2 separate regions of the Homo sapiens genome follow, and region 1 is linked to region 2. Evidence: fine-mapped expression QTL. A gene starts in region 2. The other region holds a variant in brackets. All regions are shown on one strand. Distances are between the middles of the regions.

Evidence for each region. PIP is the estimated chance that this variant, and not a neighbour inherited with it, causes the effect.
Region 1: its variant is fine-mapped to the expression of IFT27 in fibroblasts (GTEx, PIP above 0.99).

The regions. Positions count from the first base shown.
Region 1 is chr22:36,676,835-36,684,834 of GRCh38, reverse strand. All of the region lies in intron 1 of CACNG2 (calcium voltage-gated channel auxiliary subunit gamma 2), which reads left to right. Among named protein-coding and RNA genes, the nearest start is that of CACNG2, 23 kb to the left of the region's middle. RefSeq lists an enhancer at 1-18. The variant T/C (reference allele first, on the strand shown) is at 4,776.
Region 2 is chr22:36,770,984-36,780,364 of GRCh38, reverse strand. IFT27 (intraflagellar transport 27) reads left to right here and starts at 4,246. Exons shown (of 7, transcript NM_001177701.3): 1 at 4,246-4,691. The coding sequence starts at 4,658. RefSeq lists enhancers at 2,854-3,417, 3,945-4,204, 3,983-4,546 and silencers at 4,445-4,494, 4,625-4,684.

The sequences.
Region 1 (8,000 bases), 95 kb after region 2:
GCTTCATCTCTCTGAACCACTGTTTCCTGTCCACCACATGCACACACAAAAACGGAAATAAATATGCTTCTCAAGCAGTGTGTTATAAAAATTAAAATAAAATCTGTATAAAGGAGTTGCATACTGAGTGAAGGCTCAAAACACAGTGCTGTTGTTTTAAATCAGGACTGTTATTAATCAAACACATATCTTTTTTTACTTTGTTTTTTTTTTTTTTTTGAGACAAGGTCTCGCTCTGTTGCCCAGACTGGAGGGCAGTGGCACAATCTTGGCTCACTGCAGCCTTGACCTACTGGGCTCAAGTGATCCTCCTACCTGAGCCTCCTGAGGAGCTGAGACTACAGGGGTGCACCATCACACCGGCTCATTTTTTTGAATTTTTGTAGAGATGGGGTTTCGCCATGCTGCCCAGGCTGGTCTCAAACTCCTGAGCTCAAGGGATCCACCCACCTCGGCCTCCCAAAGTTCTGGGATTACAGGTGTGAGCCACTGCACCCAGCCTCAAACATGTATCTTTAAATCGATCCCCTGTTTAAATCGAGCCTCATCCTAAGCAATAGTACCCAAGAAATCACTGGTTCAATTCACTAGTTATATTTTTAACATGCCTTCAAAATACTTAGCTTAAAGCTATTTAAATGTTCATCCCTATACCACCTAAATTCATCTCAGGTACCACAATGGCCCACCATTCACTTTGCAAAAGCGTTGTTCCTACTGATAAACCATCCACGGGGTTTGAAAGACATGGAGAGACGGGTGGCTCTTCAGCCCCATTACTCATCAGCTTTTTTCTTTAGGTGATAAAAGAGACACTGACATAGAAAGTGAAAAGAAGGTCAGAGGCCAATTCACAGAAGTCGCCTGGACTGTAAGGGCCTTTCTGAGGCGTCGGGAGCACTCGGTTCTTAGTTACAATTTGACCCATTCCTCCATCTAGAAAGGATGGTGGTGTGGACGACAGCCAGGGGTCGCGGGGGGTGGAGAGAGAGAGAGATGCTGCCTCCCTTGTTGACACACTGATTTGTACTGAAGGATTTTCCCTTTGGTTTCCTCCAGGGTGTTCAGGAGATGCCCCCTCCCAAGACACCATCAGAACAAGAGGAATTAGCTCTCCCTGTCAACCAGCAGGGAAGGAATTTCTTTCTCCACCCTAGAGCCTTCCAAGCATAGAAGGATTTACCTCTGGTAGGAAGAGGTGTTTTCTTGGAAGAAGCTGTAAGATTTCTCCATAATGATCATACCTGAGTGGGGGAGGAAAGGCAGTTTTGTCATAACAGGAATGACTGTCTCCCATAACAATAATGACAAAAAGGATTTGGGGTATTTAGGAAGGGCTGGGATAATATGACTCACAAGCCTAAGAGAGATAGTGTAGGATTTTAGGAACCCAGGTGCTGGGTCAGAGAGAATGCAGGCATTTCCTTCCTGACTCTTAGTCCTGACTCAATCTCTTAGATCCAAGGGCTTCATCCACCATCATCTATAAAGCAAAGGCTAATCCTGAAGTATTGGACTTTGACCCGAGGGTGTTTATTTCAGAGATCCAGCACTGTCTTGTTAGACCCTAAACTGCTGAGAAGAGACATAGCTACTTCTTATACAGTTGAATGAATTAACACATAATTATGGATATAAACTAATTTCAGAGTATTAATGTGGGGGCCTGGAAATAAATCACAGAATATCTTGTCTATACAGCAATGAGATGCCAGGAAAGAAAGACAGGATGCTGCAAAGGAAGCGCTGAGAGCAAATGCACTTACCCTTTGGAGGGCCCGGAGCGATCATGAGCTAGTTGGCTGTAAGAGCCCCCTTTGGGATGGCAGGCATGGGGGAAGTAAGCGTTCTCGCAATGAAGCTGATGGGATTTTAATAGCCAGACAGATGGCCTGAGAGAAAAAAAAAGGAAGATTTTTTTTAAATGAAGGAAAACACTTCCATAGCTTCCCTTCAATTAAAAGAAAGTGAGAGCCGTCCATGCCGGGAAGATTTGTCACCATTATTAATATTGTCAGTCTGGATTTCCTTTAAATAACTGTATGATTGAGCATCAGTAATAAACCAGGGCAGCATCTTCAAACAAATTAGAGGGTGTGACTCTCTACTGACTTTCTATTCAATTTTGATTGTGTTGGCTTCATTTGGTCTCACAATTTAATAATGATCCCAAATAATTGTGTTGTTATTATTCTTGTTTATGCAGTCAAACGTTTATCACTTATTGGATTCTTTAGTGTCCATCCTCCTAAGAACTTCAGGTTCTATACAAGTCACCATTGAGTAGCCAGCATATCTAAATTTGAATCAAGAAACCTGGGAAGAAGTCGGGAGTGGGGTGGGGGGAGGGGAATACAAGATAAAAAGGAAATGTTTGAAAAGAAGGAGAGGATGGAGAGGAAAGGAAGGGAAGAAAAACACTACCTATTGAGCACCCTCCTGTATACCAAAGGTTTTATTTTATCCCCACAACCACCATGCAAAATCTGTTTTAGGCTTCTCTTCCTCATTCTGCAGAGGAGGAAACGGAGGTGCTGAGAGATTAAGCGATTTGCCAGAGTCCCACAGCTAACAGGGGCAGAGGTGGGAGTCGGGTTTGGGACTCCGTCTCTTCACTGGCTTCACTCCTGCAAGGGCCTTCAAGCCCTGCGTCTTCTCCCCCAAGTCTCAGCCAAGCTGTGGGAACCCTCCCAAGCTTAGAAATGAGCTGTCTCGTAGCATTCCTGCAGTGTGTAAAGGAGCAGAAATTCACATAGGAATTCTGCCTCTTGGTCTGCTGTTACACTTCCCTAGTTCAATTCTCAGAGTCTCCTGACGGCTGAGCACCATGAAGATGGGCTGATGGTAGAGGGAGAGTTGGTCCCTGAGAGCATGCAGACTTGGCATCCTTTGGCCATACCAGAAATGGACCCAATAGAGAGTGGGGGGAGTAATTATCTACAGGAAACATACACATGCCATGCCTCCAGCTACCATGGGCTGGATCCTCTGGGATCTACTGTATAGTCCTTATTTTTTCATTCAGTTCCCACAACCACCCTGTATGGCAGGGTGGTGGTACAGATGAGAGAACTGAAGCCAAAAGAAGTCAAGTGATTTCTTTTTCAGGTTGGTCATTGGTGGTGCAGGGATTTAAACCCTAGTCCAGCCAATGGATTCCAAACACAAATGGTCAACTTTACTTCAGCACCAGTGTGATGAGTTTTGACAAGAGACAAAAGGAAAGGGTGGGAGAAGTTAGAAATGTAACCCAAAAATATATTTGGAATAAAAGTGGCTGCCCCCCAAAAAATGGATTTAATTCTGTTCCTGCCCAAAGGCTGATGCTCAAATTTAATTCAGTAAGCATTTACAGGATGTCAACAATGTGCAGATCATTATGCTAAAGAGCCAGGTGCTGACAAAGATTCAAATTCCCTGTCTTCTTCCTTTTTAAAAACTTTCGACTCTGAATAAAAAGATGTGCCCCTTTTCCCACAAAGAGAAAAAATCATGTAGTTGCTCTTCCTTATGCTATCACCAGGTAGGAAAAGTCCAGTCTCTGCGAGGGCTTGGAAGCATTCTCTATATTCTAAGGTGCTGCATCAGTTACTTTTAGGCCCTAAGCACTAAACCAACAGAAAGAAGGTGGAGGGATGAAGACAAACTAAAAGGGAAGAGCCATGGAAATACAACCAACAAGCAAAAGAAAATGATCCATCGATTAATAGGCAGAGAGATGAACAGATAGATGATAGATAGATCTTTAGCTTCTAACTTACTCGTGAAAAAGATACAAATTCTTAGAATAATAAAAAAAGAATAATTTTTCTGTTTTTCATTCTCATTCTTTTTAATGGATAAATGTATAAATAAAGAAGTTGACAGGAAAAGAAAAGAATCTGAGACATAAAGGCCAGAATCAGAGTTTTTCAGATGTGCTGCTGGTGGTGGTGATGATGGTGATGGTGGTGGTGGTGATAGTGATGGTGATGGTGGTGGTAGTAATTGTAACCATGATGCAGGTGGCAGTAATCATGAAGGTGGTGGTGATTGATGGTGACAATAACGGTTGTGATAAAGATGGTGGTGATGAAAGTGGTGGTAGTGGTGGTGGTGATGGTGATGGTAGTGGTGATGGTGATGGTGGTAGTGGTGATGGTGGTGGTGGTGGCAGTGATCATGAAGATGGTGGTGATGGTGGTGATAATGATGGTGGTGTTAGTGGTGGTGATGGTGGTAGTAATTATAGCCATGATGCAGGTGGTGGTGATCATGAAGGTGGTGCTGATGGTGGTGGTAGTAATTGTAACCATGATGCAGGTGGCAGTGATCATGAAGGTGGTGATGATTGATGGTGGTAATAATGACTGTGATAAAGATGGTGGTGATGAAAGTGGTGATGGTGATGGTGGTGATGGTGGTGGTGGTGATGATGGTGATGATGGTGGTAGTGATGGTGGCAGTGATGGTGGTGGTAATGGTGATGATGGTGATGATGGTGGTAGTGATGATGGTGATGGCGGTGGTAATTATAGCCATGATGCAGGTGGCAGTGATCATGAAGGTGGTGGTGATGGTGGTGATGGTGGTGGTGTTGATGATGGTGATGGTGGTGGTGATGATGGTGGTGGTAGTGGTGGTGACAGTGATGGTGGTGGTAGTGATGGTGGTGGTAATGGTGGTGACGGTGATGGTGGTGGTAGTGATGGTGGTGATGGTGGTGGTAATTATAGCCATGATGCAGGTGGCAGTGATCCTGAAGGTGGCGGTGATGGTGGTGATAATGATGGTGG[T/C]GGTAGTGATGCTGATGGTGGTGGTAGTAATTATAGCCATGGTGCAGGTGGTGGTGATCATGAAGGTGGTGGTGATGGTGATGATAATGATTGTGATGCAGGTGGTGATGATGAAGGTGGTGGCAGCAGAGATGGTGCTTGTGATGATAACAGGGATTGTTATCATCCGAATAACTACCATTTGGAACAACTCTTCACGGTGTCCAAAACCTTTAACGTGTATTACTTCATTTTAGAAGAAAAATTCTGAATTTTTCAAAACAACAACTATTTCTAACCAAGTTCCACCGTGAGTGTCACCAAAACTCAGCCAAGTTAAGAGAACAGGGAGAGCTGGAGTGGGCTCTTTCTCCATCACACGTAAGTGGGCAGTGACCTAGGGAGGAACAGTTACAAAAACGAGAGCAAGGCTACAAAAGCTCTCTCCAGTCTTCCCTCAACCAATCGCCTCCAAGTCTATTCACCCAAATCAGTCCCCAACGTTGATAGAACTTAATACCCTTTCACCTGAAAACTGTTTAGTAGATTTCATATGCATAACTGATTGTAATCTGGTTCCTAGTGGATAAATAAAAATCATTTGTGATCATTGAAACGTATTTATTTTTTAATTAGGTAGCAGCCATGAATGAAGAGCCCTCAGAGAGCCATCTCCTATAACCTCTCCAGGAGCCCTACTGACATAGAAAGGGCAGCATTCAGTGGCCGGTACATTTGCTCCTGCCCATGTTTTCTTATAAAGGACTTTAACCCCTGACTGACAGCCCTACCACACTTCACCGGAACTCATCACATGTCCTTTTTTAAAGAAAAGAAAGAAAGAAAGAAGGAAAGAAAGAAAGAAAGAAAGAAAGAAAGAAAGGAAGGAAGGAAGGAAGGAAGGAAGGAAGGAAGGAAGGAAGGAAGGAAGGAAGGAAGGAAGGGAGAAAATCCAAAATGCTGGCAGATAAGCTGCCAACAAAATGATTTCTTTAAAGAATAAACTAATAACTGAGTATCAGTTAAGGCACAGCCAGCTGTGACGTTTCCTCTGGCCATGCCAGGGGCTGCAGTAACTACCTACTCAGTGCTGTGCTGCGAGCATTGATTGGGAGCATTGGCTGTGTCAGAGGGCTTGACATTCCAGCAATGACACAAACCACGTGTCCTTGGGAAGACGGTGTGCGATGAGATGGATGAGCCAAGTAGGGTTTGAGAAGTGGGAAAATTAGGTCAAATCCCTGTGAATGTACCCAGGGAAAGAAGAGGCTGCTGCCGAAGGGAAGCTGTGTCCTTGGTGTTTTTAGAGAAGGGGGTGGTGTCCTAGGTGCAAGAAGAGAAGGTAACCATGGTGGCTCCTGGCCATCGTGGGGAAATGGAGGGGGAACAGGTGTGAGTGACTGGCATGGGGGTGGAAATGAGGTCATATCCGTAGTGTGGGAGCTGTAGGGGGAATGTTATCGCATGTGCTGGGGGAAGGATGGAGGCAAATTGGGTCACGTCTTTGTGGAAATGATGAGAGAATTGGGTCAGAACTGTGGGGGAGAAGGCTTGAGAATTGGGTCGAGTCTTTGGTTAGAAGGGGGAACTGGGTCAAATGTGAATGTGTGTAGAGAGAGGGTAGTAGAAGGTAATAGAGAGAGTGGGCTGATCCCTAAGGTCAGAGAGGAAGGGGAATGGGGAAGCTGCTTTGATTCACCCTGGGGTTAAAAATTGAGCTACTAGGTTCTGGCCATTTCCTCCTAATTCCATTGACTTGCTGTCTCCCCTTGTAACATTAGACTGAAAATAGGCTTTCCTCCTCCTACCCCAAATTGTGTGACATAAATTTCAGCCAGGACGGGGTGTCATTCATTCTTCAGCACTTTGCAAACCAACACAAATTGGCGTTTGGGAAGATAACCATTCCATCATTTTACGTGGCCTCATTTTACCTAGAATGCCAGGCTGGTGAGCAGCTGCCCTCCCTTGGGGTTTCAGCATACCACCAGATTCAATACCAATTCTCTCTCCTTTGCGACCATTGGCATCTCTGCAACACTTGAAGCCTCAAAATACATTTTGTAAATAAAAGCTGAGTAATAAGTTCATTTTAGCAGCTTCCAAGCTGGCTTTGTTGAAATCTTTGCAATCATGGGGCAGTCAAACCACAACAATACTCAAAATTATACTTAAAAAGAATGTACTTTTATTAATCAGCTGAACTCCTATTGGCTACTTGGTTGAATAGAACTATCTTCAAAGAGCAAAACTGGAATGTGCAATTCACAACCTTGTCTGCTGTGACACTCTATGGAGAAATATATTAAACCATGGAACTTCATTTGGTTGAACGGCACCACAGGCTCAACACATGCCAGTGTATATTTCTCTGGTAATTTCAGCTTCATTTATGCCCACGTGGGTTAAGGAGGGTTTCTGTTGAAGCATACACTCGTGACCTGCTATCTCCTTTGGGGACCTAGGCATGGAGTTATAATGAATCTGATCCGATAAGGCCACAATGGGTTAAATCTGCATTCTCCCAAAAATTCCTTTTTATCGGCATGAATCACTGTGATTAATGAGATAAGCTTGTAATAGGCTTCTGTAGCATATGGACCTCTCTGACCCACCCCAGAGGAAGACACACCCATCCAGGCAGTGCAGTGGTGGGGAAACCGCATCCTTTCCCGTGGACCCGAGAAAGCTTAAGGCTTCTTAGAGAAGAATAGAGATGGACACACACCAATGCTTCCTATTCCTTAGGTGATATTTGGTGGTATTTTGGAATGATGGGGATAAATATACTTTCAGATCAAATAATTTGGCCCTGGTTTTTCTTGACTCTCAGAATCTTTGAATGCAGAAGGATCTTGCAGATTCTGAAAGCCTTCTTCAGGAAATGAAGAGAGAGGGGGACAAAAAGGGAGTCGTTCCCTCTGCAATTCAAATCAAACCTTCATTTTCTTCAGCAGAGTTATTTTAAGTCATTCATTATTATTTTTCTTCTGAAGCAGGGGCTGTTTGATACTGTAAGATTGTTAGAACCAGAGAAGAGTAGAGGTGACACCGAAGTATTATTCTTGCTGCAATTTCAGATGAATTTGCTGCTGACAAAAGATTTTTAAAACACACACACACACACACACACACACACACACACACAATATTAGAAGAAGCAGAAAGAGAGGCAAGCTCCATCAGGCAGCTCAGGGAAATTAGGTCCCTACCATTTTTCCAGGGCATTCGCTGAGGCTGATCCAG
Region 2 (9,381 bases):
GGAGGACGTGTGTAGGTTTTGTGCAAATATTACAACATTTTATATAGGGGACTTGAGTAGCCCTGGATTTTGATATCCATGGTTACCAATCCCCCACGGATACAGAGGGACAGACTGTGTAATCTCTGGTAGTAGTGAACGCTATGAAGAAAGTAAAGTAAGTCAAGGATATTGAGACTGACAGATTGGGGGCGATGCTTAAATTGTGTGTTTGGGAGGGCTCCCCGAAGGCATGACGTTTGAGCTGAGATCTGAAGATCATGAAGGAGAGTCATACAGCCTCATTGGGAACAGTGCGTACAAAGGCCCTGCGGTGGGAACGTTCCCGAGGAGCTTGAAAAACAGTAAAATGACCCAATAGAGTAGATAAAGGTGGGTCCTGGCATTAGCTAAGAAAAGCAGTTCTCAACATGAGCTTGTGTCGGAGTCACCAGGAGGCCTTATGGAAGCAGATTGTGGGCTCCACCTCCAGTGTTCAGCTGGTCAGGGGTGGGGCCTGGGAAAATGCATTTCTTACTAATCCCCAGGTGATGCTGGTGTGCCAGTCCAGGGATCAGAGCATAGGGTATTTGTTCTTTCTGCACCACATCCTCCCCTATTCAACATTGACTACATGCAATCATAGATCATTACTGCTTGATCATCTGCCGCTCCACTGGGCTAGATGGTTCTGTCCACCTCTACGTCCTAGTGCTTAGCAAGCACTCAACAGAATATTTGTTGAATTAATTCCTCAAACAAGGGTTCTACTCTGGGTCTTGCCATTCCACCGTGTGTTCCATCTGCTGCCCTCCCAGAGCTCTGAGCCTTTGCATGTGCTGACCCATCCACCCAGCATTTGCCTTCCCCTGTGTCCACCTCGCAAATTCCTACAAGGCTCTCCTTTCAGAATATCCTTCCCGACTCCCTCTCCATCCACCCAGGGTTAGGAATGCTCCTCGAGGTGTACATAGGGAGTCCCATATCCACCTGTGGCACAGTGACTTGTCCACATGTTGGTCTTCCTTTCTTTACCAAAGATCGTAGATGAGCAGCCCCCAGGTTGAACCGGTCAACAGAGGTTTCTACTGCAGCTACAGTGTTTTAAATTTAAGTTCATTGCCAACACTAACAGGTCAGGGGATTTCACACAAAAATCCAGATTCCTGGCTCCTCTAGAAAAGTGTGCAACCCTGGGCCCGTATTCCCACATTGCCGTGATATCTCACCCAGAGGTAAAGCCTGGGGCTCTGTCATCCCCACCCTTCAGTGGATCCAGCAACCAACACCATGCCTGGCTGATGGTAGGCACTCAAGAAAAGCTAATTAATGAAAATGGAGAGACTATGCTGGATAATGGGGGAAAACAAAGAAACAAACATTGGTCCCCAGAGTCAAGAGATCTGAGGCTGGTTCTGGATCTGGCTGACTTGTTGCATGACCTTGGCCTCTCTGTGGCTCTTTCCTTTCTTCAAATGAATGAGAGTTTCCACTTCCCAGGGTCATGGTTTCATACAGGAGAGAGGATGTGAAGTGCTTAGCAGATGCCTCACATCTAATGCTCAATCAACGCAAGTTATTACGGCAAGGAACTCAATAAGTATTTGCTCTTTAGGAAGGGTGAGAAGGAGTTCAAATCCATCTCTGCTACTCACTAGCTAGGTGACCTTCGGTGTTTCACTTAATCTCATTTGGGCCCTAGTTTCCCCATCTATCAAATGGGGATGATACATGGTTATTGTGAATATCAAATGTAAATGTGAAATTAAACTAATTAATCCCTAAAATCACTTAGAACAAGGCCAGCCTTAAGTCTGTGGTCAACATAGGCCAGCTGTGACTATTAGAGCTGCTCAGAAATGGGATAACTCGAATTGCTCAGGAGCCCCCATGGCTCCAAAATTCTCTGACCACCTTAAACCTAGTGACTCTCATTCAGCTTACCTTCAGTCACAGAAATGTATAGAAGGCCCTTGGGTCCATGAGGTGAAGGGGGACAGAATTCACCATACAAGTGTTTACCATCTCTCTAGAAAGTTCTACAATGCTCTTATGATAATGCTGACTAAAATCACACAGAGTAGCAGCAACAAAAGGGAGACAGTGGGTGGGGAACAGAGAACAGCCCTGGGAGGGAGGTGTGATTATTACCTGCAAGAGTTAAAGAAAGAGGCAAGAAACATGAAAAGTGGCTCAACAGTTAAATACAGGTTTATTTTGGAGCATAAACCTGAGAGGGGCTTCTGGCCAATTTCAGTCAGGAGTGCTCTCTCTTACAGACTAAGAGTATTTAAGGGTTTAGGGCAAGAGAGCTTACCACAGGCTTGGAATGTTTCTGTGTGGAGGAGAAGTTTACTGTGGGGTTGGAATGTCTCCGGTCTGAGGGTGGGTTATGTTGGGGCTGACATCTCTCTGACCAGAGGGGAGGTTATCTTGGGGCTGCATGTCTCTGGTCGGGGGGTGGGTTTATCTTAGGGTTGGAATGTTTCTGATTGGAGATGTCACTTGTGGTTTATGGTCATTCTGACATTAGCCATTAGGCTGATGCCCTTTGGGTTGAATTTAGGCCGTTTTTGATCAAGGAGAACTTTAAAATGGCAGTGCTTGTCCAAGATGGCTATGCTCCGGCTCTGTCATTACCCACCTCGCAAAATGAAGGAACCAAGGCTTCGGAGGCTGCCCTGATGTGTGTCTGTGTCTTAGCTACGTGGAGCTGCCTCGGGAGGGTGACTCACCAAATGGGGTCCTTTAAGGGATTAACAGGGTCACTCATGGTGAACAGGTTGGCCTGGAGGGGAGCCGGCAAGAGGAAGGCAGAAGACCAGAAAGAGGCTTTTTGCTCACTCAGACCTGGATGTCTGAGACAGACTCACGTGATGTCACCAAAGAAGAAAAGCAGTTACGAGAAATGAAGGAGAAACAGACCTTTACCGTAGCGCCAGGAATGAATCCCAAGGAAAGAACATCTCAGACAACTTGCATTTACTCTGGATTCGGGGCTGAAACCATCAGCCATTCATAGAGTGTGTGTGTTTATTCCCCCACACAAGGCTGGCAGCCACTCTGAGATGCAGAGTGGCGGAGAGGTGGAATGTTCTAGGTGTCTGGAGGGAATGTGGAACTTTCGCACAGGCACCTTTGCTGAGGGGCTGCTCTTCCCTTCAGCATCAGCCATCAGAATCCCAGGGGCCCTGAGAAAGTGAGAACAAGGGGTACATTCGGCCAACCAGTGACAGTGATGATAAACCAAATCTGTCCAGATAAGCTTCCGCTCTCCCATCCACCCCACAATCACGTGTGCACCTACTATCTCCCAGGCACTCATACGTTTCTCTCCTTCCATCTCCACAACCACCCCACAAGGCGGGTTCTCCTAGGCCCATCCTGAGGCTGAGGGATGAGGTGACTTGTCCAGGCCAGGGATTTAGGTCTCTGACCCCCTAACCACGTGCAAGAGGCACCCCCAACCCAGTAAACGCGTACAGAGAGCCTCCCTGGGTGACGGGCAAACGAGGTTAGTGATGCATTCTCCTTTTGCAGAGAGTAAATGGACTAAGAGCAAAGTACGACTTCAAGTTTCCGAGTCTCACCGCTTAGCCCCATCAAAGTGTATTTGTTCTCCCTTTGTTCACAAACATCACTTTAATAAAACACCTTCATATTTTAGATTTTAACGCTCATTACATCTTTGAGCTTTTAAAATGAGATTTCCCTGCGGGATGCGGGGCAAGGACTGCACTTCTCCATGCACTTTAATAGCCGCGCTGTGCAGAACCCGGGAACCGGGGAAGCCGCGAGAACCGCGCGAAGTCAGAGCAAGTCAAAACGACCTCTACAGCGGCGGCCTGGCCCACTGCGCAGGCGCCGCTCCAGACCGCCTAGAGCCCAACCTGCCCCATTGTAGGCGAACCCACTTCTAGAAGGACAGCGGGAGTGGCGAATCCCTATTCCTCCCGAAGATGGGTCAAGCCAGACTCTGACCAATCAGAAAGCTTCTCTTGTCACCGCTTCTGACTGCTTGACGTGGAGGCTTCTTTATCTCGGGACTCTCAGGCGCAGCGGGGGCGGGATATAAAGCTGGTTGACGTCAATTACAACCACTCGTCAAGCAGACTGAACTTGAAGAACTGATAACTCTACGAATTGCATCTCAAGAAAAGGCTGTTATCCCAGCTCTCTACTCCCATTGGATTTTTGTGAGACCTTGAGGGTGGGAGCTTTTGGCGGCAACCAATCGAGGGTCAGCGAGGAGGAGGAGGAGGCGGGGCAGGTGGGCTATGGTTGCTTGGAGAGTGCATCCGGCCCGGTACTTGTGATCGGAGGAGAGCCGGATCGTCCTTCCTTGAACCCTCTGGGTAGGGCTGTGCTGAGGGGCTGGGCGGGGAGCACAGGCCGTGTCCGCTCGCTTGCACCTTTTCAGACTGCCGTGTCAGGCCTCGAGCCGGGCCCACCTGGAGCCCTCCCCTGCCCACCCGCCCCCAGCGCCCGATATCCGCCCCCGGCCCAGAAGGGCCGGGCTCGGTCATCCCCAGTCCCGTCGCGGCCACTGACCCTTGAGATCAGCCCTCCCCTCCCCACCTTCCCGTCCCAGGCCAGCCCAGGGCCCGAAGCCCACCCACTCGCGTCTCTAGCAGCCGCTCTTGTCCTCTGGGTACGGCTCGCGGGAGTGTTGGTTACCATGGTGAAGCTGGCAGCCAAATGCATCCTGGCAGGTGAGTCTGAAAACTTGCGCTTGAATACGGTGGTCTCTGGAGTCCAGAGCCTTCATAATTCATCCAGAGCTTTTGTTCACCTAAATTGCCTACCTTTTCCTTTCTCTCTCCCAAAGGCGAGTTACTGCAATTACTGATACAGTAAATTACGTTAGGCGTGGAAGAATGATCTTCCAGGGCACTTCGCAGCTCCAGTGGATTTCCCCCTGCTCCCTGTCACATACTCTGAGACCACCTTCACCAGTTGAGGTGACTCGTTAAAAAATCACTAGTTACAACTCTGGAGAAGCAGACTTGTTAAAACAAAACAAAACAAACAAAGCTTAAGCAAACCTTGAGTGCTTCAGCTAAACATATACTGTACCCCAAAGTTAGGCATCAGTGACTTTGGTAGTCTTTACTATGGGATTTTTCCCCCGACCTCACCCCCTCTGATAACGGTGACCTGAGTGTAGTGACCAGAGTTTGCAAAAGGCACTTGTGTGTTGTCTTTAAGACCCAAAGTTACTGTGCTGCCCCACTCCAAGAAGGGCATAAATGTTGAGTCTCCCAAAGGCAGGAATCTTTGTTTTGTTGACTGATACATCCCAAGCACCCAGAACAATGCCTGGAACATAGTAGGTACTCAATAAATACTTTTAGAATGGATGAATATGTGAATATGTGGCATGCACATTTGTAGTGTACCCCTTGTATCAGTCTGCACATTTAGAAAAACAATATTTTGGATTATAGACTGCGAAACACATATGCATGTTACTGAGTGCTTACTGCATGTGAAGCACACATATTTCATGTAATCGTCTCACCATAGCACACTGGGCTAGGTACTGGATTGTTTTTCTTTTTTTTTTTTTTTTTTGAGACGGAGTCTCACGCTGTTGCCCAGGCTGGAGGGCAGTGGCGCAATCTCGGCTCACTGCAACCTCCACCTCCCTGGTTCAAGCAATTCCCCTGCCTCAGCCTCCCAAGTAGCTGGGATTACAGGCGCAAGCCACCATGCCCGGCTAATTTTTTTTTGTATTTTTAATAGAGCTGGGGTTTCACCATGTTGGCCAGACTGGTCTCGAACTCCTGACTTCAGGTGATCCACCCACCTCGGCCTCCCAAAGTGCTGGGATTACAGGCATGAGCCACTGCGCCCGGCCAGGTACTGGATTGTTCTGATCTTACTGAGGCACTGAGAGATGTCAGCCAAGGTCAACCCCTAGTGAAGGCCCTATGCAGGATTTCAGCCCCTAGATCTGGCCAACTCCAAAACTCTTAACTCGTGTTTCTGTTGAAACCTGTGACCTTTCCAGGCTTCCCTGGCCAGCTCAGGAAAGAAGTGGTGAGAAATTATATAGAGAAAAAGAGATTCCTGTTTTAAAAAATTCCCCTCTTCCAGACTGAGAATAAATGATAATATTTTTAATGGCTTTTATAATTTGAAAATAAAAGGGTCACACAGAAAGATGACTGACAGTAGTAACTGAATCATACTGGAGCAAAATAAATTAATGGTTCTCAGGAGAATCTCCAGTTTCCAGAGCACCAGAGGAGGCAGTGTTGTGTAACAAAAGTAATTTTGCCTGTTCCTCTTATTGGCTGTGTCATCTTGGACGAAGCACTTTTTGAGCTTTAATTTCCTTATGGATAAGGTGGGAACATTATTTTCTGAAGTTACTTTTTTTTTTAAATGGGCTTCTCTCTGGGTTCTTTTTAAATTCGGTTTTCATCATGGAGCTAACTTACTGGCGCTTTGGGTGCATCAGCTCTGCTAGACCCTCAATACAGGTGGTCTCATTGAATCCTCATAGCAACCCTGTGGGATTGGCATTATTGCCATCCTCATTTACAGATGAGGCAACTGAGGCCCAGAAAAATGAGAACATTTGCCATGGGTCACAGAGCTGGAAGTGGCAGAGCTGTATGATCCAGACCCTGGGTCCCAATCTGATTTCCAGGGCTTTAGCCCAAGCTACTCTGTCCTCAAGTAGTGCTCCTCTGTGTCCTTCTATTTTTTTTTTTTTTTTTTTTGAGACGGAGTTTCACTCTCATTGCCTAAGCTGGAGTGCAATGGCACAATCTCAGCTCACTGCAACCTCCACCTCCTGGGTTCAAGCGATTCTTCTGCCTCAGCCTCCCAAGTAGCTGGGATTACAGGCGCCCACCACCATACCCAGCTAATTTTTTGTATTTTTTAGTGGAGACTGGGTTTCACCATGTTAGCCAGGCTGGTCTTGAACTCCTGACGTCAGGTGATCTGCCCGCCTCGGCCTCCCAAAGTGCTGGGATTACAGGCGTGAGTCACTGTGCCCGGACCTTTTTTTTTGAGGCGTAATTTCACTCTGTCTCCCAGGCTGGAGTGCAGTGGTGCACAACCTTAGCTCACTGCAACTTCCACCTCCTGGGTTTAAATGATTCCCTGCCTCAGCCTCCCGAGCAGCCGGGGATACAGGCACACACCACCATGCCCAGTTAATTTTTGTATTTTTAGTAGAGATGGGGTTTCACCAGTTGGTCAGGCTGGTCTTGAACTCCAGACCTCAAGTGATCCACCTGCCTCAGCCTCCCAAAGTGCTGGGATTACAGGCGTGAGCCACCCACTATGCCCGGCCTCTTTGTGCCCTTCTTTACCCCCAACTCCCTTGGGTAGTTCTTTCACCTGAGTGCAGCCACTGCCTAGTTAGTGGCTCCTGAACTCCAGCCTGCGCCTCAATCTGCAGCCTCTTTTCAGGGATTCCACAGCATTTCCTCTTGGAAGTTTCCAGGGACCAAAAGACCTCAGCCCAGAAATCAGCCCCCTCTGACACCTGTCCACCCACCCCCACCACACACATGCCATTGGTTTTATTTTTCCATCCATGACCCACAGCCCTACTGTTTAAACTGAGTTACTCTGTTTTTTCTCTCACATAACTGGTCATTGAAGGACCTGACGTTCAGTTCAAGTGTTTATGCATTGAACAGATACTCGCTGAGCACCTACTACGTCAGAGTCACCGTGCAAGGTGCAGTGGGCCTGCAAGCATGAGTCAGTTGCACTCAAGGAAGAACTAAGATGCGTGTGATACGTTCTAACACAGCGAACACAAAGTGAATGCCCTTTGTGTGCCAGATGCGGGGAAATGCCTCCAGGCACAGCTGCTACTTGTTCTGGTTCTGGAGAAGAAAGAAAACAACATTTGACATTGATCTGTATTTTGTTTACTTTTAAAAAAACACTTAAATAGTACTTATATATGCCAGGCACTGTGCATATTAACTCATTAAATCCTCATAACAATTCTGTGGGGTAGGTGCTATGATTATCTTAGGTTATACATGTTGCAGCTGAGGCACAGAGAGGTTAAGTAACTGATTTAAACTCACACAGCTAGAAAGTGATGGAGCTGGAGTCTGGCTCCAGAGTCTGTGCCCTTAAGTACCATAATATGCTGCCTCTTGATATACATGGAGATGGTAATAGAGCCTCCTGGGAGGGTTGCTCTGACATCACATCGTGCGCTACCACTGAGCAACGATCCACGTTAGCCACACAGATAAAGATGAAGGAGGGAGAGATGGCCTTCAGAGGCTGTGCAGGAAGGGTATTCTTTGAGCTTTCCTTGCAGAGAATGGACAGGATTTGAATTTGGTCTAGGGGTACCTGGAAGGAGGTGGCCTTGAGGAATTTCCAGGGACTGGGCGAACAGGAATGCAGAGCCCAGATTTGGGGTAAGGGATTACTAGGGAGAGAGTGGGAAGGTGGGTTAGGGCTGACCGTGGAGATGGGTAGGCTATGAAGGAATCCTCAGTGGGGTTTGTGTGAAGGTTTGCCAAGATGGAGGCACTGTGTCATGGGGGTCCACCTGTTGATGCCACCCACTGGGTGGATAACAGCCGGGAGAAAAAAGAAGAGAAAAGAAGTGTTCAAGGCACAGTCGGGAAGACAGAAAACGCAGTCGTCATTTCAGCAGAGAAATTTTAATGTATGGAATTGCTTCATCAAGTGTTGGAGAACTGAGGAAGCAAGAAGGCAGCATTGAGTTGACACAGATTGGCGGGCAGAGGTCGGGGTTGTCAGAAGCTTGAAGAGACCCAGGGAGCTGGGATCCGGACCCCTGAGGAAGGGGCCCTGCCCGGCTGGTCCCGGCACCTCAGGAGTTCAGTCACCTGCCGCGTGACCCCAGCACATGCCACAGAGCACCAGGACCCATTTCCCACTGGGAGGAGCCCAGCCCTGTGTTCAGGGCAAGACACACCAAACCAGTTCCAAACCATCCTGGAGGGTCCATGTTTTAAGACCACTCCTGGTACCAAGGACTACATAAGTCAGGGGCCAGGCAAAAACCAGCAACTCTACTCGGCATTTCAACAGTGAGGATTTCAGTAGGATGTGAATGACACTGGTGCTAGAGGACTGGAAGAGGAAAAGGGGGAAACTGAGGCAGCACGGGTAGTAACTGCAGGAAGGAGCACCACCTCTTGGGCTGGGGAAGCAGAGGGAAGCATGTGGGGCTCTCAGCCCAGAAGCAGGGAGGAGGGGCCCTGGGAGCCAAGGTGTGGATCTCTGAGAAGAGGGCACTGCCCGCTGGCGCTGTTTCCTCTGGGGGCAACAATAAGCTGGTCTGGGAGTAGGGAAACACACACACACACACACACCCCAAGACAGGAAGCAGTTAGTGCTGCTGGGGTGCAGGCCATTGCTAGGGTAGTACTAAGAAAA